Regions from separate parts of the Homo sapiens genome. Here region 1 is linked to region 2. Evidence: fine-mapped expression QTL. A gene starts in region 2. The other region holds a variant in brackets. All regions are shown on one strand. Distances are from middle to middle.

Region 1 (11,532 bases), 23 kb before region 2:
CCAAATTGCTGGGTTATAAGCGTGAGCCATTGTTCACAGGCTGAGTGACGTAGTTTAATGTTATTTATTTATTTATTTTTTAAGACGGAGTTTTGCTTTTGTTGTCCAGGCTGGAGTGCAATGGCGTGATCTCGGCTCACCGCAACCTCCACCTCCTGGGTTCAAGCGATTCTCCTGCCTCAGCCTCCTGAGCAGCTGGGATTACAGGCATGCGCCACCAGGCCCGGGTAATTTTGTATTTTCAGTAGAGACGGGGTTTCTCAACGTAGGTCAGGCTGGTCTCAGACTCCTGACCTCGGGTGATTCGCCTGCCTCAGCATCCCAAAGTGCTGAGATTACAGGCGTGAGCCACCGCGCCCAGCCTCGTGACTTTATTTTAAAATGCTACTCTGCCATGTGATTTTTTTCCTTTTTTAAGAGACGGGGTTTGTAATCTCAGCTACTTGGGAGGCTGAGGCAGGAGAATTGCTTGAACCCGGGAGGTGGAGGTTGCAGTGAGCCGAGACTGTGCCATTGCACTCCAGCCTGGGGGACACAGCAAGACTCCGTATCAAAAAAAAAAAAAAAAGAAAAAGAAAGAAACAGGGTTGGCTGGGCGTGGTGGCTCATGCCTATAATCCCAGCACTTTGGGAGGCAGAGGAGGGCAGATCACCTGAGGACAGGAGTTTGAGACCGGCCTGGCCAACATGGCGAAACCCTGTCTCTACTAAAAATACAAAAATTAGCTGGGCGTGGTGGGCGCCTGTAATCCCAGTTACTCAGGAGGCTGAGGCAGGAGAATCACTTGAACCCGGGAGGCGGAGGTTGCAGTGAGCCGAGATCGAGCCACCGGCAACAAGAGTGAGACTCTGTCTCAAAAAAAAAAAAAAAGAGACGGGGTTTCACTATGTTGCTCAGGCTGGTTTCAAACTCTTGGGCTCGAACGGTCTTCCTGCCTCAGCCTCCCAAAATGCTGGCATTATAGGCATGAGCCACTGCACCCAGCCTGCCGTGTGACTTCTGACTAACCCGAAACTGGGAATGCCTCCAACATGTCTAACGGATGTGTTACTCTTTATGTAGAAACACGTACTTACCAGCCTTTCCTCCAGAACAAGCCTTGATGTTGTCACATCCATCACAAGATGTATCGCCCATAGCCACCTACGCGTTTCTTCCAGAGCACAGATATGCTTTCCTCGAGATAGAAGCCCTGTGTCTGGGGGTTGCAGGGTGTGATCTATCTGTCTTGCTGCTGCCCAAGACCACACTTCTTTTTTTTTTTTTTCCAGACAGGGTCTTGCTTTGTAGCCCAGGCTGGAGTGCAGTGGCGTGAGCTCGGCTCACTGCAGTCTCCACCTCCCGGGTTCAAGTGATTCTCCTGCCTCAACCTCTCCAGTAGCTGGGATTACAGGCGCCCACCACCACACCTGGCTAATTTTTGTATTTTTAGTGGAGACAAGTTTCACCATGTCAGTCAGGCTGGTCTCGAACTCCTGACCCCAAGTGAGCCACCTGCCTCGGCCTCCCAAAGTGCTGGGATTCCAGGCATAAGCCACCATGCCTGGCGAAGACCACACTCTAAGTTTCCCCCTAATAAACCACCCTGTATTGACAAACTAGATGGGTCGGCCTCATTCTTTGGTTTCTTGGCTCCTTCGGCATTTGGGGACCGCTTTGCCTATATGAACCTTTCAAAGAACACCATTTAGGCCCGTTTTCCAGATTGGGTCACTGAAGCTCAACTCCCCTCATTTTCTGAGAGAGGCAAAGAGAGGCTGCAGCTGATGTTTGCTATGCTCATTGTTCAGGTGCAGCTGGGAGGGCATGACACACATATAGCTTCCCAGGACATTCCAGGATCTGGGAATATGTATTTTTGTTTTGTTTTGTTCTGAGACAGAGTCCCGCTTGGTCACCCAGGCTGATGTGCAGCGTTGCAATCACCGCTTCCCAGGCCCAAGCGATCCTTTCACCTCAGCCTCCCAAGTAGCTGGGACTACAGGCATGTGCCACCACACCCAGCTAATTTTTTTTTTTTTCTTGAGATGGAGTCTTGCTCTGTCACCCAGGCTGGAGTACAGTAGTGTGATCTTGGCTCACTGCAACCTCTGCCTCCCAGGTTCAAGTGATTCTTGTGCCTCAGCCTCCCTGAGTAGCTGGGATTACAGGTGTACACCACCACGCCCGGCTAATTTTGGTATTTTTTTGTAGAGACGGGGTTTCACGTTGCCCAGGCTGGGCTTGAATTCCTGCCCTCAAGTGATCCGCCCACATCAGCCTCCCAAAGTGCTGGGATTATAGTTGTGAGTGACTGCGCCTGGCCCTATTTATTTATTTTTTTACATAGAGATGGGGTCTCCCTATATTGCCCAGGTTGGCCTCAAACTCCTGGGCTCAAAGGATCCTTCCTCCTTGGCCTCCTGAAGCGTTGGGATTATAGGCATCAGCCACTGTGCCCGGCCTATTTATTTTTCTCGAGAAAGGGTCTTGCCCTGTCTCCCAGGCTGGAGTGCAGTGGCGTGGTCATGGCTCACTGTAGCCTTAACCTTCTGTGGCCAAGCGATTCTTCTGTCCTTAAGCCTCCTGAGTAGCTGGGACCACAGGTGCATGCCACAACACCCGGCTAATTTTTTTTTTTTTTTTTTTTTTTTTTTTAGAGATGAGGTCTTGCTATGTTGCTCAGGCTGGTCTTGAGCTCTGAGCTTGAGTCATCCTCCTGTCATCCTCTCCTGAAACCCCCCACCCTGCCCATCCCTGGCCTCCAAAGTGCTGAGCTTATAGGCATGAACCACTGTGCCTGGCCAGAATTTCATTTAAACAAATACTCCTGGCCGGGCGTGGTGGCTCAGGCCTGTAATCCCAACACTGTGGGAGGCCGAGGCGGGGGGATCACCTGAGGTCAGGAGTTCTCAAGACCAGCCTGACCAACATGGTGAAAGCCCCATCTCTACTAAAAATACAGAAAAATTAGCCGGGTGTGTGCTGGGCACCTGTAATCCCAGCTACTCAGGAGACTGAGGCAGGAGAATCGCTTGAACCCAGGAGGCAGAGGTTGCAGTAAACCGAGATCGCGTCATCGTACTCCAGCCTGGGAGACAGAGCAAGACTCTGTCTCCAAAAACAAAACAAAACAAAAACAAATATTCCCCGCTTGCTTTTTACCAGACCCCAACTTGGTCCAAGGAAAGCATCCCCATCCCAGGTGAGGATGAAATCACCACTGGTGGATGCCAGCTTGGTGGATCTGTCTGCAGCTGTCACTGACCTGTGCCTCACAGCCAGTGGGATATAAGGGAACATGAGGAGAGGGCTGAAAGGAGAGGGAACTCTGGGGACAGATTTTCTCCCACTTAACAATGCCCAGAACAGAATGCGGCCTCTTCCTTCACTGGCTGTTGGTGACATCTGGAGCAGCTGCAGCTACCTTGGGACCATGAGGGGGGGTCCAGCCCCCAAACCTATCCTTGGCACAGCTAGGGGATGCGAGAACCTGGTTCCCTGAAGTCATCCTGCCTTGGGACATCTTGGTTTTTATCATAATTCATTTTTATTTATTCTTTTTTCTATTAGAGACAGGGCCTCATTCTGTCACCCAGCCTGGAGTGCAGTGGAGTGATAGATCATGGCTCACTGCAGCCTCAAACTCCAGGGCTCAAGGGATCCTCCCACACCAGCCTCCTAAGCAGCTGAGACTACAGGCACACACTACCATGCCCAGCTAATTTTTTTTCTTTTTCTGAGACGGGGTCTCGCTATGTTGCCCAGGCTGGTCTCAAACTCCTAAGCTCAAGTGATCCTCTTGCCTCAGCCTTCTTTTTTTCAGACAGAGTCTCGCTCTGTCACCCAGGCTGGAGTGCAGTGGCATGATCTCGGCTCACTGCAACCTCTGCCTCCTGGGTTCAAGCAATTCTCCTGCCTCAGCCTCCTGAGTAGCTGGGACTACAGGTGCCTGCCACCACGCCCAGCTAATTTTTTTAGTATTTTTAGTAGAGAAAGGGTTTCACCGTGTTAGCCGGGATGGTCTCCATCTCCTGACCTCGTGATCTATCCGCCTCTGCCTTCTAAAGTGCTGGGACTACAGGTGGAGCCACCATACCTGGTACATTCTTTTTTTTTTTTTTGAGATGGAATCTTGCTCTGGTACTCCGGTTGGAGTGCAGTGGTGCAATCTTGGCTCGCTGCAACCTCCGCCTCCCAGGATCAAGCAATTCTCTTGCCTCAGCCTCCCGAGTAGCTGGGATTACAAGTGCCCACCACCACACCCGGCTCATCTTTGTATTTTTAGTAGAGATGGGGTTTTGCCATGTTGACCAGGCTGGTCTTGAACTCCTGGCCTCAAGTGATCCCCCCTATCTTGGCCTTTCGAAGTGTTGGGATTACAGGCGTGAGCCACAGCACCTGGCCAAATTCATCTTTTAAAAGTTGCTTAATCCCGGCCAGGTGCAGTGGCTCACTCCTGTAATCCCAGCACTTTGGGAGGCTAAGGTGGGCAGATCATGATGTCAGGAGTTCAAGACCAGCCTGGCCAATATGGTGAAACCCCCATCACTACTAAAACAATGCAAAAATTAGAAGGCCGGGCGTGGTGGCAGGCAGCTGTAATCCCAGCTACTCGGGAGGCGGAGGCAGGAGAATCGCTTGATCCCAAAAGGCAGAGGTTGCAGTGAGCTGAGATTACACCACTGCCCTCCAGCCTGGGTGACAGAGTAAGACTCCATCTCAAAAAAAAAAAAAAAAAAAATTGCTTAATCCCAGGTTTGGGTTTTCTGTCCTTGTGGCTGAAGGGACCCTGAGTGAAGGCTGCAGACTCATCAGGGGCAGATGGAAAAATACCAGGATTGAGCCTCTCAGAAGTGATGCTTGAATCCAGTCTTCAAAGATGAGGACTCCGGCAGGTGACGTGGCAATAGCGTTTTGGAGGGACCAGTCCAGATACACAGGCATGGAGCCATGCATTTGTTCCAGAAAGTGTATTTGGATGGAACCGGAACATGGAACAGGACACACAGCAGGATGCGGAGCAGTGTCAGATGAGGCCAGAAAGGTGGGTGGGACTGGTCTTCAGGGGCTCCAGATGAGGCTGAGGGGCTGGGCCTAGGTCCTGGAGTGGGGTCAGCTCTGGGACCCTTCTGGGGCTGTGTGGGGAAGGGGCTGGGGGCCAAGAGGTCCAGGAGGAGGCTGGCGATGAGATGGCTGGAAGCCAGGGGTTCAGGGAGGCCCAGGCTCCTGGTATCAGGGTTCACCGGCTATACTGAGGATCCCCTGCCCCTGGCACCCAGCTGTGGAGGGGACACTGTCTTTGAGGCATCACTGGTTCCACAAAAGGTAGGGGAAGGTCTTGAGGGACCACCCCATGCCCTCATTAATCAACCAGAAGCTTGGCCCGGAGCAGCAGCGGGGATTCCAGTAGCTGTGGGCATACAGGATGCTAGGGCGGCCACAACCCAGGCAGCTGAGGCCGAGCCACCTAGGAACGCAGGCTCAGAGCAGACCCTCTTGGGACAGACGGAGAAGGGGAGGGGGCGGGCTTCTCTAAGTTAAGCCGATCACTGAGCACCTCACTGGACACGAGAGAAGGCAAGCCCCTCGGAGGACAGAAGGGAAGAGCCACAGACTTGGAGGCTGTGAAAGTGGAGACAGGTGGACCTGGGGTGGCAGCAATGCGTGAAATGCCAGGCCGTGCCCCCGCCCCAGGAGCCCAACATGACACC[A/G]GCCCCCAGGGAAGCTGACTGTGCCACTTCATCCAGCGCCCATCAGTCGCCTTGGAGCATCAGGAATCCTGAGGGCTGGGGTCCCGGAGGATCACAGATGCTGGGGCACCTCAACCTCAGGGAGCCGCTCGAGAAGTTTCTTTTCTGAAGTGTCCACCTCCTTCTGGTCACCGGCTGGAGCTGGGACAGGTACATCGTCTGGAAATGGAGGGAGGGAATGGTGGCACAGGACATCCGAACCCCTCCTCCCCCAGGACCCCAGAGGCCCAGCCCCTCCTCCCTCACACCCAGGGGTCCAGCCCCCAGCCCCTCCTCCCTCACACCCAGGGGTCCAGCCCCCAGCCCCTCCTCACTCACACCCAGGGGTCCCAGCCCCTCCTCCCTCACACCCAGGGGTCCCAGCCCCCAGCCCCTCCTCCCTCAGACCCAGGAGTCCGGACCCCCAGTCCCTCTTCCCTCAGATCTGGGAGTCTGGGCCCCCAGTCCCTCTTCCCTCAGATCTGGGAGTCCAGGCCCAGCCCCTCCAACCTCAGACCCAGGGGTCCAGCCCTGCAGCCCCTCCTCCCTGGACTAGGGCCAGCACCTGTGTCTGGGTGGAACTTGAGCTGCCCCTCAGGGTGGGCAGCCGGGGCCTTGTGGCCTTGCTGCTGCTGCTGCTGCTGCTTCCGCTGCTCCATGTGCAGCACAGCCTGTGGGAGGTGGGGGGTCACACAGACAAGAGGGTGTGATGCTGGCATTGCAAGTGCTCAGGCCTCAGTCCCCAAACGGAGACTTCACAGCAGCCTGCTAAGTGGTCACGGCCAACCCCTTCTCCGTGGGCCTCAGTTTCTCTCTTTCATTGACAGTCGGGCTTAATAATAGTCAAGGATCCAGTTCTCCCTCCAGTCACAGCTTGGGTCTTGCTTTGGGACAGGGAAACCCTCACCCATCCCTGGCTGAGTCTGCCTTTCTCCCCCTCCTGGGCCTTTCCCTCCTCACTTACAGCCTTAATGCCCTTATCTCACATGGCAGCCACAGAGCCGTCAGAGACGGGAAAACGTCTGCCCTTACTCAAGATGGCGGTGAATACTTGAGGCTCCCCCAGTGATTAACATGGTGGCCACAGGCCTTCCCAGCTTCTGGACACCCATGGGGACACGGACACGGGCAGCCAGAGATTCAGTGGATGGAAGCAGCTTCCCCCGCTGTCACCTGCTGCAGCTCTCTCTTCTGGGCCTCCAGGCGGCCCTGGGACCGCCCTAGAGCCTCTGTCTCCTGGCTGAGGCGCTGGGCCTTGGCATTCAGCTCTGCCTCCCGGGCAGCCAGCTCCTCTTCAAAGCGCCTCAGCTCTTCCTCGGTGTAGGCAGGGTGCATCTCCACTGTCTGCAGGGCAGGCACAGGGGCCATCAGGGGCACAGGTCCAACCTCGGCCCACCCATGTTGGAGAGGGTTGTGCCAATGGGGGAGGTGTAGAGGAGGCTGGGAGGCCAGGGCCATGTGGGTGGGCAAAGAAGCCCAAGTGGGAGGTGGGAGTGGGATAAAGACCGAGAGACAAGGCCGGGCACCATGGCTCCCACCTGTAATCCCAGGACTTTGGGAGGCGAAAGTGGGAAGGATCACTTGACGCCAGGAGTTCAAGGTCAGCCTGGGCAACGGAGCGAGACCCTGTCTCTACAGAAAATTGGCTGGGCATCTTGAAAAATATATAGAAATAGGCCAGGCACCATGGCTCACACCTGTAATCCCAGCACTTTCGGAGGCCGAGGTGGGTGGCTCACCTGAGGTCAGTAGTTTGAGATGAGCCTGACCAACATGGAGAAACCCCGTCTCTACTAAAAATACAAAATGAGCAGGGCATGGTGGTACATGCATATAATCCCAGCTACTCAGGAGGCTGAGGCAGGAGAATTGCTTGAACCTGGGAGGTGGAGGTTGCAATGAGCTGAGAATGCACCATTGCACTACAGCCTGGGCAACAAGAGCAAAACTCTGTATTGAAAAATAAACAAACAAATAAATAAATAAATAAAACAGAGACCTAGATTAGCTGGGCATGGTGGTATGTGCCTGTAGTCCCAGTTACTCAGGAGGCTAAGGAAGGAGGATCACCTGAGCCCAGGAATTCAAGGCTGCAGTGAACTATGATTACACCACTGCACTCCAGCCTGGGTGACAGGAGACCCTGTCTCAAAAAATATTAATAAATAAATAAAAGAATGAGCTAGATTAGCTAGGCATGCTGGCATGTGCCTGTAGTCCCAGCTAATAGGGAGGCTCAGGCAGGAGGATCACTTGAGGACAGGAGTTTGAGGCTGCAGTGGGCCATGATAACACCCCTGCACTCCAGCCTGGGTAATCCCAGCACTTTGGGAGGCTGAGAAGGGTGGATAGCTTGAGTCCAGGAGTTTCAGAGCAGCCTGGCCAACATGCAAAACCCTGTCTCTACCAAAAAATACAAAAATTAGCTAGGTGTGGTGCGGTGGTGCATGCCTGTAATCCCACCACTTAGGGAGGCCAGGTCAGGTGGATCGCTTGAGTCCAGCAGTTCTAGAGCAGCCTGGCCGATATGGCAAAACCCCATCTCTACAAAAAATACAAAAATTAGCCAGGCATGGTGGCTCACGCCTGTAATCCCAGCTACTCATGAGGCTGAGATGGGAGGATCGCTTGAATCCAAGAGGCGGAGGTTGCAGTGAGCCGAGATCCCACCACTGGGCTCCAGCCTACGCGACAGAGCAAGACCCTGTTTCAGAAAAAAAAAAAAAAAAAAAAAAATCACACCTCTAATCCCAGCACTTTGGGAGGCCAAGGTGGGTGGATAACCTGAGGTCAGGAGTTTGAGACCAGCCTGGCCAACATGGTGAAATCCTGCCTCTACTAAAAATACAAAAATCAGCTGGGTGTGGTGGCACGCACCTATAATCCCAGCTACTCAAGAGGATGAGCCAGGAGAATTGCTTGAACCTGGGAGGTGGAGGCTGCAGTGAGCCGAGATCGTGCCACTGCACTGCAGCCTGGGCGATGGAGTGAGACTCCGTCTCAGAATAAATAAATAAATAAATAAATAAATAAATAAATAAATAAGAGTCCTAGAGACAGGGGAAAACAGAGACCCAGAGATAGAGATGCAGTGACCCAGGAGAATGGACGGGGACCCAGAGAGAAAGAGAAGGGGCCTAAGATTCTGAAAGAAAGGTCATGGCTAGAAGAGAGAGAGGTTCAGGACCCCGAGTATCCCCCATGTTCTCACCTCCCAGCCCTCCCCGGTGTCCCCAAACTCCTTCCTCTGAGTGGATGCGAGGAACTCCTCCAGGGTCACGAGGCGGTCCTGGTTGGTGTCCACCTGGGGAGCCAGATAAGGGTGAGTGACAGAGCTGGGGGCCCGTCCTCTCCCCCGCCTGGCCCCCACCTCACATTCTTCATCACATGCTCCCGCATGCGCAGTCGCTCCTCCTCCATCTCCCGCATGTCGTCCTCCTCATTCTTTGGGTCGTACACTTTCTCCAGCTGCAGGAGCAAGCGAGAGGCAGACAGCATTGAGAGGTCCCCAGCGAGCTCATTCCCGACAACTTCAACTCCCAGCAGTCCTTTGGGCACGCTACCACTCCTGGGAGCCGTTTTTGCCCCAGGGGCTGATGGGAGTTGTAGTTTTCACTGAGCTCCCATCCAGGGGGATTTAAGGGGACTGCAGGAGGAAACAAGTGGCTGATTTGGGCGTCCCTCCAGGTGCCCGAGGCTTCCAAGATGCTCACCTCCTTGGTGAAGAGTGCCTCCAGCTCCTGCTCATCCAGGACACCATCACTGTTGATATCTGAAGGGAAGAGGATAGCAAGGTATCTCAGGGGACCGAGGACGGGATGTGTAAGGTCCCTGGTGAAGAAATTTTGGGCTGATGTGGGGTCTGTTATCAGAGGACAGGTAACTACGGGTCTCCCGCGGTGGAACGGTGGCCCCCAGGCTTTAGTACCCCACTAGACCCGTTGCTAGGGCCACTGCCTAGCGACCAGGGGGTTGAGAATGGAATAGATCAAAGGGAGGGTTCGAGGAAACATGCTTGGGTCACTGTCATGCAGGATTCTCTGGCCCTGGCATTCAGTGCTCTGGACACAGAGTCAGCTCCAGGGTTATCAGGGACCTCTGCCTCCCAGACAACCAGGCCAGTGCCGACTCCAGTTGTGAGGGGAGCCTCTCCTACCAACGTAGACCCCACAGCTGCAGGGCTTCAGGCTCGGTCAGCCACACTTCCTGTCCTCACCACCGGCCCTCCTTCCTCGGCTCCCTCAGACAAGCACAACCTTCCTCCTGAGGAGGAGGCCAGGAACCCTCATCTTGCAAATCCAGTGGTTAATTTCCACCTGCATCTGACTTGACTTTCTGCCCTTGGCTTCCAGAACATGATTCTGTCCTCTCTGGCTGCCCCTCCACCTCCTTTGACGGCTCCATCCTCTTCCTGACCTCCACATGCTAGTGTGGCCCAGGGCTCAGGCCTGGGGGTCTCTTCTCTGCCTAAACTCTGGATCTGCGCTGTCCAGTACAGTAGCCGCTAGCCACATGGGCTGTTTAAATGTAAATTGATTAAGATTAAAGAAAATGTAGGGGCCAAATTTAGGGGCTCATGCCTGTAATCCCAGTACTTTGGAAGGCTAAGGCAAGATCATTTGAGCACATTAAGTTCGAGACCAGCTTAGAAAAGATGGCTAGACCCCGTCTCTACAAAAAAAAAAAAAAAAGTAAAAAATTGGGCCGGGTGCGGTGGCTCACGCCTGTAATCCCAGCACTTTGGGAGGCCGAGGCAGGAGGATCACCTGAAGTCAGGAGTTCAAGACCAGCCTGGCCAGCATAGTAAAACCCCGTCTCTACAAAAATACAAAAATTAGCCAGGCATAATGCCAAGTGCCTGTAACCCCAGCTACTCAGGAGGCTGAGGCAGGAGAATAGCTTGAACCTGGGAGGCGGGGGTTGCAGTGTGCCAAGATCATGCCATTGCACTCCAGCCTGGGCAACAGAGCAAGACTCTGCCTCAAAAAGAAAAAAAAAATTTAAAAATTGGCTGGGCATGGTGGTGTGCACCTATGATCCCAGCTACTCTAAGGGTTGAGGTGGAAGAATCACTTGAGCCCAGGAGGTCTGGGTTGCAGTGAGCCATGATCACGCCACTGCACTCCAGCCTGGGTGACAAAGGGAAGCCCCATCTCTAAAAATAAAAAAAATGAAAAATAAAAAAAGGTATAGGGAGTTGCTCTGAACCTATTCTGGTCTGTAGGGACTGCCTGATTAAAAAGATTAAATAAGGTTTTTATTTTTTTATTTTTTAGAGACAGGGTCTCACTCTGTCACCCAGGCTGGAGTGCAATGGTGTGATCGTAGCTCACTGAAGCCTTGAACTCCTCGGCTCAAGTGATCCTCCCACCTCAGCCTCCCAAGTAGCTGGGACTACAGATGCACGCCACCACACCCAGCTAATTTTTGTATTTGTTTTCATAGAGATGGGGTTTTGCCATGTTGCCCAGGCTGGTCTTGAACTCCTGGTCTCAAGGGATCCAGCCGCCTTGGCTTCGCAAAGTGCTGGGATTATAGGGGTAAGCCACTGCGCCGGGCCTATTTATTTGTTTATTTATTTTTGAGACAGAGTCTCGCTCTGTTGCCAGGCTGGAGTGCAGTGGCATGATCTCAGCTCACTGCAACCTCCACCTCCAGGGTTTAAGTGATTCTCCTGCCTCAGCCTCCTGAGTAGCTGGGACTGCAGGTGCGTGCCACCATGCCCAGATAATTTTTGTATTTTTAGTAGAGACGGGGTTTCACTATGTTGGCCAGGATGGTCTCGATCTCTTGAGCTCCTGATCTGCCTGCCTTGGCCTC
Region 2 (10,061 bases):
CGGGACTCTGCACTAAACACGTATTCTGTGTTCCCCAAAGCTCTTCCCAGCTTGTGACCCCAAGAAGCAACTTCTCCCTGAGTCTTACTTTGGTGATTTTCAAATACAGGCACAGCTGGAGCCATGTGGCCCCTTTGAAGAAACCAGTATGGTCAGGCATGGTGGCTCATGCCTGTAATCCCAACACTTTGGGAAGCCGAGATGGGAGGATCACGAGGTCAGGAGTTCGAGACCAGCCTGGCCAACATGGTGAAACCCCGTCTCTACTAAAAATACAAAAATTAGTCAGGCATGGTGGTGTACGCCTGTAATCCCAGCTACTTGGGAGGTTGAGGCAGGAGAACTGCTTGAACCTGCGGGGTGGAGGTGCAGTGAGCTGAGATCGCACCATCGCACTCCAGCCTGGGTGACAGAGCAAGACTCCGTCTCAAAAAAAAAAAAAAAGAAACCAGTCCTCCCCTGAACTCTGCCCTCCCAGCACGTACCCCTCCCACAGCCCCCACTCCCCCAGCCGCACCTTGATGTCCTCCGCATTGGCAGCCTGCAGCTTCTCTCGGAAATGCCCATCCGTCTCCAGTACATCGATGACCTCCTGGAGGTACCGGTGGTAGTACAGGCCTGTGTCCTGAGGCAACAAGGACAGACATAGCAGCCCCTGCTCCCATCCCCATCCCCACCCTCACTCCTGTTACTGCTATGGCCTGCTCCCTGGGGCAGCTGACAAGGGACTCAGTTTTTACCTTTTCCCACATATGCAGCAAAGATGAAATGAAAATCACATCAGTGAACACCCAGCCCAATACTGCCCAGAGTGGGTGCTCAGAGTGGACATGACTTGTTGGGAAGCTGTGAATCATACTTTTATCCATCCATCCAACCATCCATCCATCCATGCATCCACCCATTCATCCATGCATCCACCCACCCATCCATCCATACATCCCACCCACCCATCCATACATACATCCTACCCACCCATCTATCCACCCATCATCCATCCATCCATCCACCCATCCATCCACTCATCCATCCATCCACCCACCCACCCATCCATCCATCCATCCACCCATCCATCCATCCACCCACCCATCCATCCATCCATCCATCCATCCACTCATCCATCCATCCATCCACTCATCCACCTGCCCATCCATCCACCCACCTATCCATCCATCCATCCATCTATCCATCCATCCATCCACTCATCCACCCACCCATCCATCCACCCGCCCATCCATCCACTCATCCATCCATCCACCCACCCATCCATCCATCCACCCACCCATCCATCCATCCACTCATCCACCCACCCATCCATCCACCCGCCCATCCATCCAACCACCCGTCCATCCATCCATCCACTCATCCACCCACCCATCCATCCACCCGCCCATCCATCCACTCATCCATCCATCCACCCACCCATCGATCCATCCACCCACCCATCCATCCATCCACTCATCCACCCACCCATCCATCCACCCGCCCATCCATCCACCCGCCCATCCATCCAACCACCCATCCATCCATCCATCCACTCATCCACCCACCCATCCATCCACCCGCCCATCCATCCAACTGCCCATCCATCTACCCACCCGCCCATGCATGCATTCATTCATTCAACAAACATTCACCAGGCCCCTATCATATGCCAGGCACTGTGAACAACACAGACAAAAGTCCCAGGCCTCCTAGTCCCACCCCCGTCATGCGTAGCTGGGTGGGACTTTACTCTCCCTGGGCCTTCTATGCTCTTACTATTTATAAAATAGGCAATATATCCTCTGCCTCCCAGAGTTGTGGTGAAAAGCAAATAAGATAAGTTGGAAAAAATAAATAAATAAAATTACAAAAGAGAGAAGGCCAGGCATGGTAGCTCATGCCTGTAATCCCAGTGCTTTGGGAGGCTGAGGTAGGAGGATCACTTGAGCCCAGGAGTTCAAGGCTGCAGTGAGGTATGATCCTGCCACTGCGCTTCAGCCTGGGCACCAGCACAAGACCCTGTCTATTAAACATATATATATATATATACATTCTTTACCTCTTTACCTAGTCTCACAAGATCCCACATGATCCACATAATCCCCCTCTCCCCTCCCTCTCACTCTCCCTGCTCCAGCCACAGCAGCCTCCTTGACGTCCTCAACTTGCTCTGCTTTCTCCTACCAAGTGGCCTTTGCTCATGCTGTTCCCTCTGCCTGGAATGCTCTTCCCCTCACTTCCTCTCTTCCTTGCTCTTGACTTAACATATCTCTCCAGTTCAGAACTCAGTGGCTCACACCTATTATCCCAGCACTTTGGGAGGCCGAGGCGGGCAAATCACTTGAACTCAGGAGTTCGAGACTAGCCTGGGCAGTATAATGACACCCTGTCTCTATCAAAAATACAAAAAAAATTAGCTAGGCATGGTGGCACATGCCTGCAGTCCCAGCTACTCCAGAGGCTGAGGCAGGAGGATCGCTTGAGTCTGGGAGATGGAGATTGCAGTGATTGCACCACTGCACTCCAGCTTGGGTGACACAGCAAAAATAAAAAAAAAAAAAAAAAAGAAAAAGGAAAAGAAAAAATGAGGTGGCTCATGCCTGTAATCCCACCACTTTGGGAGGCCGAGGCAGGCAGATCAAGAGGTCAAGAGATCGAGACCATCCTGGCCAACATGGTGAAACTCCGTCTCTACTAAAAATACAAAAATTAGATGGGCGTGGTGGTGTGCGCCTGTAGTCCCAGCTACTCGGGAGGCTGAGGCAGGAGAATCACCTGAACCTGGGAGGCAGAGGTTGCAGTGAGCCAAGATTGCACCACTGCACTCCAGCCTGGTGACAGAGCGAGAAAGAAAGAAAGAACTCAACTCACGCCTCCCTTCCTCCCTGACTGTCACCCCTGGTGTTCACTCTCATAGAGCCCTGCCCTTTGTCTTCCATCTCCCAGTGAGCAGGGATAGTCCATGGGCATGGGGCATGCACATGGCTGGGCCCTAACAACTATGCAACACATAGGCAACACTATGCCCGGCTCATAGAAGGTGCTCAGGAAACATGTGGAATGGAAGAAAAGAAATGGGACTCAACAAAGCCTTCCTGGGTCTGCAAGGATTTCACAGAATAGAGGCCTAACTTGCAGCGTGGGGACCAGGAACATGCAATGATCCGTTCCAGGGGGTAATGACTAGCCCATTCTTTGTTTTTTGAGACAGTCTCAGAAAACAGAGTCTCAGCTCTGTTGCCCAGGCTGGAGTGCAATGGCGTGACCTTGGCTCACTGCAACCTCCACCTCTCTTGGTTCCAGCACGAGAATTCGTGCCTCAGCCTCCCAGAGTAGCTGGGATTATAGGCGTGAGCCACCACGCCCAGCTAATTTCTGCATTTTTGGTAGAGATGGGGTTTTGCCATGTTGGCCAGGCTGGTCTTGAACTCCTGACCTCAAGTGATCCGCCTGTCTCGGCCTCCCAAAGTGCTAGGATTACAGGCATGAGCCACTGCGCCTGGCCTGACCAGCCTATCCTTATGGGGAGCTATAGGAAGATTCGGACCACAAGACACTCACTGACCTTCAGGATCTCCAAAGTTCCAAATCCCTTAAGACCAAAGCTTTTATTGGGTTTGATAAACACATGTAGGAATTAATAAACAAGCAGTTCACCCGCCCTTCTGTAATTTAAACTACAACTCCCAAGAGCACCATGAAGTCAGAATACCCCAGCTAGCCAACATCAACTGCTACTGGGAACTAGCAACATGGTGCTACTGGGAAATGTAGTTTTGTTTGTTTGTTTTCAAATTCCTTCTTGGGTGGAGAGAATCTTAAAAAAACAGACGTTTAGTTGGGGCGTGATGCAGATTTTCCACACCTCAGAGTCAGGGACCTCCAGTTTTTCACCAAGTCAAACCCCTGCTGCTGGGAGGAATGGTGGGCAAAAAACAAGCTACAACTGTAGGGCCAGGAAGTCACTGGAGCATCCGCCCTACGGGCACCGGGGTCTGCAGGAGCTGTAGTACCACTGCAAACACCTGGCTGGATAGCAGGGCAGGGCCACTCACGGGACTCTCAGTCGCAGGGGTCTCCTCCTTGTTGGGCGCCCCTCGCTCCAGGGGGACAGCCAGCACGGCGCGAAGCAGGAGCAGCAGCAGCAGCGGCAACAGAAGGAGGGTTCCTCGGGGCCCAGAGGGAGGCATGGCAGTGTGGTCTGTGGGGGATGGAGGGCTGGATAATGCATAATGTCTGTCCCAAGCCTCTTCCTCCCCTGGAACCAGGAGTTCGGGCCCCCAGCGCCGCCCCCACTTCCAAGAATCAAGACACAAGCATTTTGTTACCCAGGCCCCAGGATTCCAGGCCTCCGGCCTTCCCTTCCTCCGACACAGGAGTCTGGGCCCTCAGACCCAGGGGTCCTGGCTCCCAACACGCTCCTCTCTCACACTCAGGAATCCGGGATCTCGGCCGCCTCCTCCCCCAGACCCAAGAGTCCAGGGTCCCAGCCTCCTCTTTTCCCAGGACCTAAAGTACTGGCACCCAGTGCATCCTCCTCCGGGACCCAGTTTTCCAGCCCTCTGGCCCCCATCCTCCCTAGGACCCAAGAGTATGGGAACCCTGGCCTCTCACCTCTCCTTCACCGCAGAGGGCGTTTTCCAGGGCGGGCAAGGACCTCCGGTGCGTTCTTGGTGACTTCCCCCCTAGACCACGCCCACTTATCCACAGAGGCCCCGCCCCAAAGAGGTCTGATTGGTCCACGCTGGCTCTGTAGCTTTCATCCACGTCCAGCGGCCCCGCCCCTTGCCGAAGCCGCTCGCATTTTCGTGAAAGCCTCGCTTCTTTCTCGGAATCCCAGCCTCTTGACGCCACATTTCCCGCCTATGCCAAAAGAGAGAGAAGGCTTTCAAAGATAACTACAACTCCCTGCCGGCCGGGGGAAAAATAACTTCCGCGGGCATCGTGGCCCCTTCGCCTCATGGGAGCTGTAGTTTTCCCATTTATTTTCGCCCCACGAAGTGCCTGGAAGTTATAGCGCGGTAGCAATTGCATAGCCTTTCTTATGAGTTTCTTTCTTCTTCTTCTTATTATTCGAGACAGGGTTTGCTCTGTCACCCAGGTTGGAGTGCAGTGGCGCAATCACTTCTCACTGCAGCCTCTACCTCCCAGGCCCAAGCAATCCTCCCGCGTCAGCCTCCCAAGTAGATGGGACCACAGGCCACACTACCATGCCTGGCTAATGTATATTTTTTAAATTTTTAATACAAATATTTAAATCTTTAATTCTTTTTTAGCCTTTTTTTTTTTTTAACGTTCTGTCTTTCACACTTCTCACACTTTGTTGTTGTTGTTTTTTAAAGAGACGGATGTCAAGCCGGGCTTGGGGGTTCACTCCTGTAATCCCAGCACTTTGGGAGGCTGAGGCAGGCAGATCACCTGAGGTCAAGGGTTTGAGACCAGCCTGGCCAACATGGAGAAACCTCGCCTCCACTAAAAATACAAATTAGCCAGGCGTGGTTGCGCATGCCTGTAATCCCAGCTACTCAGGAAGCTGAGGCAGGACAATCTCTTAAACCCGGGAGGCGGAGGTTGCAGTGAGCCGAGATCGCGCCACTGCACTCCAGCCTGGGCGACAGAGTGAGACTACGTCTCAAAAAAAAAAAAAAATCTCTGTGTTGCTGGTCTGGATCTGGATCTCCTGGACTCAAGCAATCTTGCCTCCCCGTCTCCGCCTCCCAAAGTGCTGGGATTACAGGCGTGAGCCACTGCGCCCCGCCTCTTTTAAGTTTCTTGTAAGCGAGATGTGTACAGTGAGGCCGCGAGGTCTCTGGTCTCCCGCTCTCTCTCTCTCTTTTTTTTTTTTTTTTTGAGACGGTGTCTACCTCTGTCACACAGGCTGGAGTGCAGTGGCGCGATCTCAGCTCACTGCGAGCTCCGCCTCCCGGGTTCACGCCATTCTCCTGCCTCAGCCTCCCGAGTAGCTGGGACTACAGGCGCCCGCCCGCCACAACGCCCGGCTAATTTTTTTGTGTATATATATATATTTTTTTTTAGTAGAGACGGGGATTCACCATGTTAGCCAGGATGGTCTAGATCTCCTGACCCCGTGATCCGCCCGCCTCGGCCTCCCAAAGTGCTGGGATTACAGGCGTGAGCCACCGCGCCGGGCCGGTCTCTGGTCTCTTTAAGGAACCCCCACACGGCATTCGTGTTCAGAACCCCCGGAGCAGGGTTGCCTGGCTGCATCAGTGACCGAGTTCGTTACTTTGTTGGAAGTGGAGAGTGGAGGGTCAGAAGGGAGTGGACCAGTTCAGGTCCCAGAGGGAATCCTCCCTCCCTCTGAGCCGTCTTTCTTCTCCTCCCTATTTCGCAGATATCCCGAGATTAGGTCCCCAGCTTCCAAAGAGAGGATCAGGTATGTTTAGAGATTGGCCAGAGAGGCAAGGTACCGAGGCATCAATGTGAGCAGCCTCTCCAGGCACCTGGTGAGGAGAACAAGTCTCCCGGATCCCAGGCAGGTGGGCAGTGGAGTTCTAGGCCGCTGGGGGCTGGGTGTTTGAAGTGCACAGTCCTGAGTTCTGATGCCTGGGTGCTGGAGAATTAGATATTTGGGGGAGAGAGAAGCGGACTTGCGGACCCCCGTGGGAAGCTGGAAACAGGCTACTAGATCCCGACAGGAGTGGGTGCTGGGATTCGGGCTGCCTGGGTCCGGAAGCAAATTTAAAGGTAAGGATCAGGCCGGGCACTGTGGCTCATGCCTGTAATCCTAGCACTTTGGAAGGCCAAGGCGGGCAGATCACCTGAGGTCAGGAGTCCGGCACCAGCCTGGCCAACATAGTGAAAACCGGTATCTACTAAAATACAAAAAAATTAGGCAGAATAGCGGACGCCTGTAGTCCCAGCTACTCGGGAGGCTGAGGCAGGAGAATCGCTTGAACCCAGGAGGTGGAGGTTGCAGTGGCCGAGATGGCGCCACTGCACTGCAGCCTGGGCGACAGAGCGAGGCTCAGCTGTCTCTAAATACATAAATAAATAAATAAATAAATAAATAAATAAGGCTAAAGATTAGGTGCTGGTGGGCAGGATCCATTGGGATGTTGGTTCTGATCCTGACTCCTCATTCTTGCTTCTGCAGAATGTCTCAGGATAATGACACATTGATGAGAGAGTGAGTAGGGAAACAGATGGGTAGGGGTGGAGGTGGAAAGGGCTGGGGACCCCGTGCACTCGGCTCTGGCTTCATAACCATGTTTGCAGGTTCAGCACCATCGGCCTTGCAGGAAGGGGCTGGGGACCTGGACTCCTGTGTCCTGAAGGGATGGGGCTAGGGTGCAGACTTCTGGGTCTGAAAGAGAAGGGGTTGGGGGCCCCAGACTCCTGAATCCTGAGACAGGAGGGACCTGGGATCTCTGGGTCCCGGCTTCTGTGGGCCAGTGCCAGGAGAAAGGGCCCTATAACTGGTGGAGCAGGCTCAGGTTCTGCACCTCCTGTGACCTCACAGGTGCCCAGAACCCAAGCTGAGATAGGGGCAGGATGGGGGAAGGAGGGACTCTCTTGGGCAACCGAGGTTCCCTGTGCACTGTCACCATGGGCCTGTGTCTCTCTCAGCATCCTGGGGCATGAGCTCGCTGCTATGAGGCTGCAGAAGCTGGAACAGCAGGTATTGTGCCCAGGAATCTCACCACTCCAACTCTTCCGCCTTCTGTGCCTCCCCAGGGGCCTCTCCACCAGGTCTTGCTCTAGGACTCCCAGCCCGTGTTGGCTGTCTCTCATCCTTGAGTTTTCCCACTGAGAAATGAGAAAATAGGAATTTGGGGCCGGGCAGGGCAGCTCACGGCTGTAATCACAGCACTTTGGGATGCTGAGGTGGGCGGATCACTTGAGGTCAGGAGTTCAAGACAAGCCTGGCCAACACGGCGAAACCCCGTCTCTACTAACACACAAAAAATTAGCCAGGTGTGGTGGCAGGCGCCTGTAATCCCAGCTACTCGGGAGGCTGAGGCAGGAGAATCGTTTGAATCCGGGAGGCGGAGGCTGCAGTGAGCGGAGATCGTGGTACTGCACTCCAGCCTGGGCGATAGAGCCAGACTCTGTCTCAAAAAGAAAAAAAAAAAGTAAGAAAGGAAAAAGAAAAGAAAATAGGAATTGGGGGTTCTAAAGAAGCAAACAAACCCTTGTGATGAATTTCTAAGGAACAAGGCTTCTAGAAGGCAGGACTCCTGGGTCCTGGGGGATGAGAGGACAGGGTGTCAGGACTCTTGGATCTGAGTCCAACGGTGGAATAAGGGAGGAGCTGCTGAAGAACTGAGGGCCTGGACGTGTGGGCCCCAGTGGAGGAAGGGGTTCACGAACTCTCGCGCCGATGCGAGCCCTTGCCCCAGGCCCCACCTCACTTCTGTCTTCCCATCTGGTTCCTGTCCCGGACACCCACCTCTCCCATCTCCCCAGCGGCGGCTGTTTGAAAAGAAGCAGCGACAGAAGCGCCAGGAGCTCCTCATGGTTCAGGCCAATCCTGACGCTTCCCCGTGGCTTTGGCGCTCTTGTCTGCGGGAGGAGCGCCTTTTAGGTGACAGAGGTGACCAAAGACCCCTGGGGGCGTTCGCCTGGAGGGGAGGGGCCTGTGGGAGTCTGTGGGCGGGGCCTAGTGGATGAAGGGGTGGAGCCTTAGGGTGGGGACTTGGCAGTGGATGGGGGCGGGCCTTGGCCCAGGAGAGCTTTAGAACAGGGCCTGTGGGCGCCCAGGGGAGAGGCTTGTGGGGGCCCCCCGCGGCAGGACCTGTGAGGGAGGGGTTCGGGGCAGGGCTACAGAGCGCAGGGGCGGGGCATGGTACAACTAGCAGGGGAAAGGGGCAAGAGAATGTGATGATTGGGCTTGGCAGAGCTCGGTGGTGGAGCCTGGGAAAGCCGGGACCCCCACCCCAAACCCGGGATTGCGGAGACGGGGTCTAGGGGTCCGGGGCGGGGCGCGGTCTCATTACGAGAGCCTGGCGCGAGATTCTTTACGTGCGGAGCCCGCAACAATCCAGCGGCAGGGCTGTGCTTGTTTGAGGCTTAGGATGCAGTTTGGGACCTGGGTCTCAAGGTTTGGGCGGTCCGCGAAACAGGGTGATTTTTTTTTCTTTTTTGAGACGGAGTTTAGCTCTTGTTGCCAAAGCTGGAGTACAATGGCAGGATATCGGCTCACCGCAACCTCCGTCTCCCGGGTTCAAGCGATTCTCCTGCCTCAGCCTCCCGAGTAGCTGTGATTACAGGCATGCGCCACCAAGCCCGGCTAATTTTGTGTTTTTAGTAGAGACGGTGTTTCTCCATGTTGGTCAGGCTGGTCTCGAACTCCCGACCTCAGGTGATCCGCCTGCCTCGGCCTCCCAAAGTGCTGGGATTACAGGCGTGAGCCACGGCGCCTGGCGGGGGTGATATTTGGGAGCCCAGTGACGGGGTGGATTTTGGTTGAGGACCGGAATTTGTAGATCGTTTTCATGGGCTCGCTGAACCTTCTCCCAGGCCTTGGGAACCCTTTCCTCCGGAAGAAAGTGTCAGAGGCACATCTGCCCTCTGGCATCCACAGTGCCCTGGGCACCGTGAGCTGTGGTGGAGACGGCAGGGGCGAGCGCGGCCTCCCGACACCGCGGACAGAAGCAGGTATTTGCGAGTCCACCGACCTCCTAGACCCCAGAACTCCGTCCCCACTAAAACCCAGGAGTCTGGTGCCTCAATCCATCTGTCCAAAATACTCAGGAGCTCAGGACCGCACCCACTCCTTCCTCACACCAAGGAGTTCAGGTCCTGAGCCGCCTCCTCCTGCAGCATCCAGAAATCCAACTCTCCCCTCCTTCCTTCCTCAGTGTTCAGGAATCTCGGTCTCCAGTCCCCTTTCTTATCCTGGCTCCCAGACAATTCCGATGCAGAATTGGAGGAAGTCTCCGTGGAGAATGGTTCCGTCTCTCCCCCACCTTTTAAACAGTCTCCGAGAATCCGACGCAAGGGTTGGCAAGCCCACCAACGACCTGGTAATTTAGGGGACATTGGGGTGAAACCTGGGATCTCCTGGTTCATGCAGCAAATCTTCCCCTTTCTTAGGCAGCAGCTTCACTGAA

The links.
Region 1: its variant is fine-mapped to the expression of NUCB1 in whole blood (TOPMed, PIP above 0.99).

The regions. Positions count from the first base shown.
Region 1 is chr19:48,916,678-48,928,209 of GRCh38, reverse strand. NUCB1 (nucleobindin 1) reads right to left here. Exons shown (of 13, transcript NM_006184.6): 8 at 9,426-9,484; 9 at 9,088-9,180; 10 at 8,924-9,016; 11 at 6,886-7,056; 12 at 6,278-6,383; 13 at 4,838-5,892. The coding sequence ends at 5,786. It overlaps NUCB1-AS1 (NUCB1 antisense RNA 1), which reads left to right and starts at 9,319. Exons shown (of 2, transcript NR_046633.1): 1 at 9,319-9,506. RefSeq lists a silencer at 1,004-1,298 and enhancers at 4,975-5,474, 8,621-9,120. The variant A/G (reference allele first, on the strand shown) is at 5,695.
Region 2 is chr19:48,894,911-48,904,971 of GRCh38, reverse strand. It overlaps NUCB1 (nucleobindin 1), which reads right to left and starts at 4,660. Exons shown (of 13, transcript NM_006184.6): 1 at 4,600-4,660; 2 at 4,041-4,186; 3 at 518-625. The coding sequence starts at 4,175. TULP2 (TUB like protein 2) reads left to right here and starts at 6,228. Exons shown (of 13, transcript NM_003323.3): 1 at 6,228-6,382; 2 at 7,103-7,135; 3 at 7,576-7,627; 4 at 8,416-8,542; 5 at 9,469-9,606; 6 at 9,810-9,974. The coding sequence starts at 7,104. RefSeq lists a cis regulatory region at 5,484-6,483, enhancers at 6,018-6,833, 9,281-10,061 and a silencer at 8,715-8,854.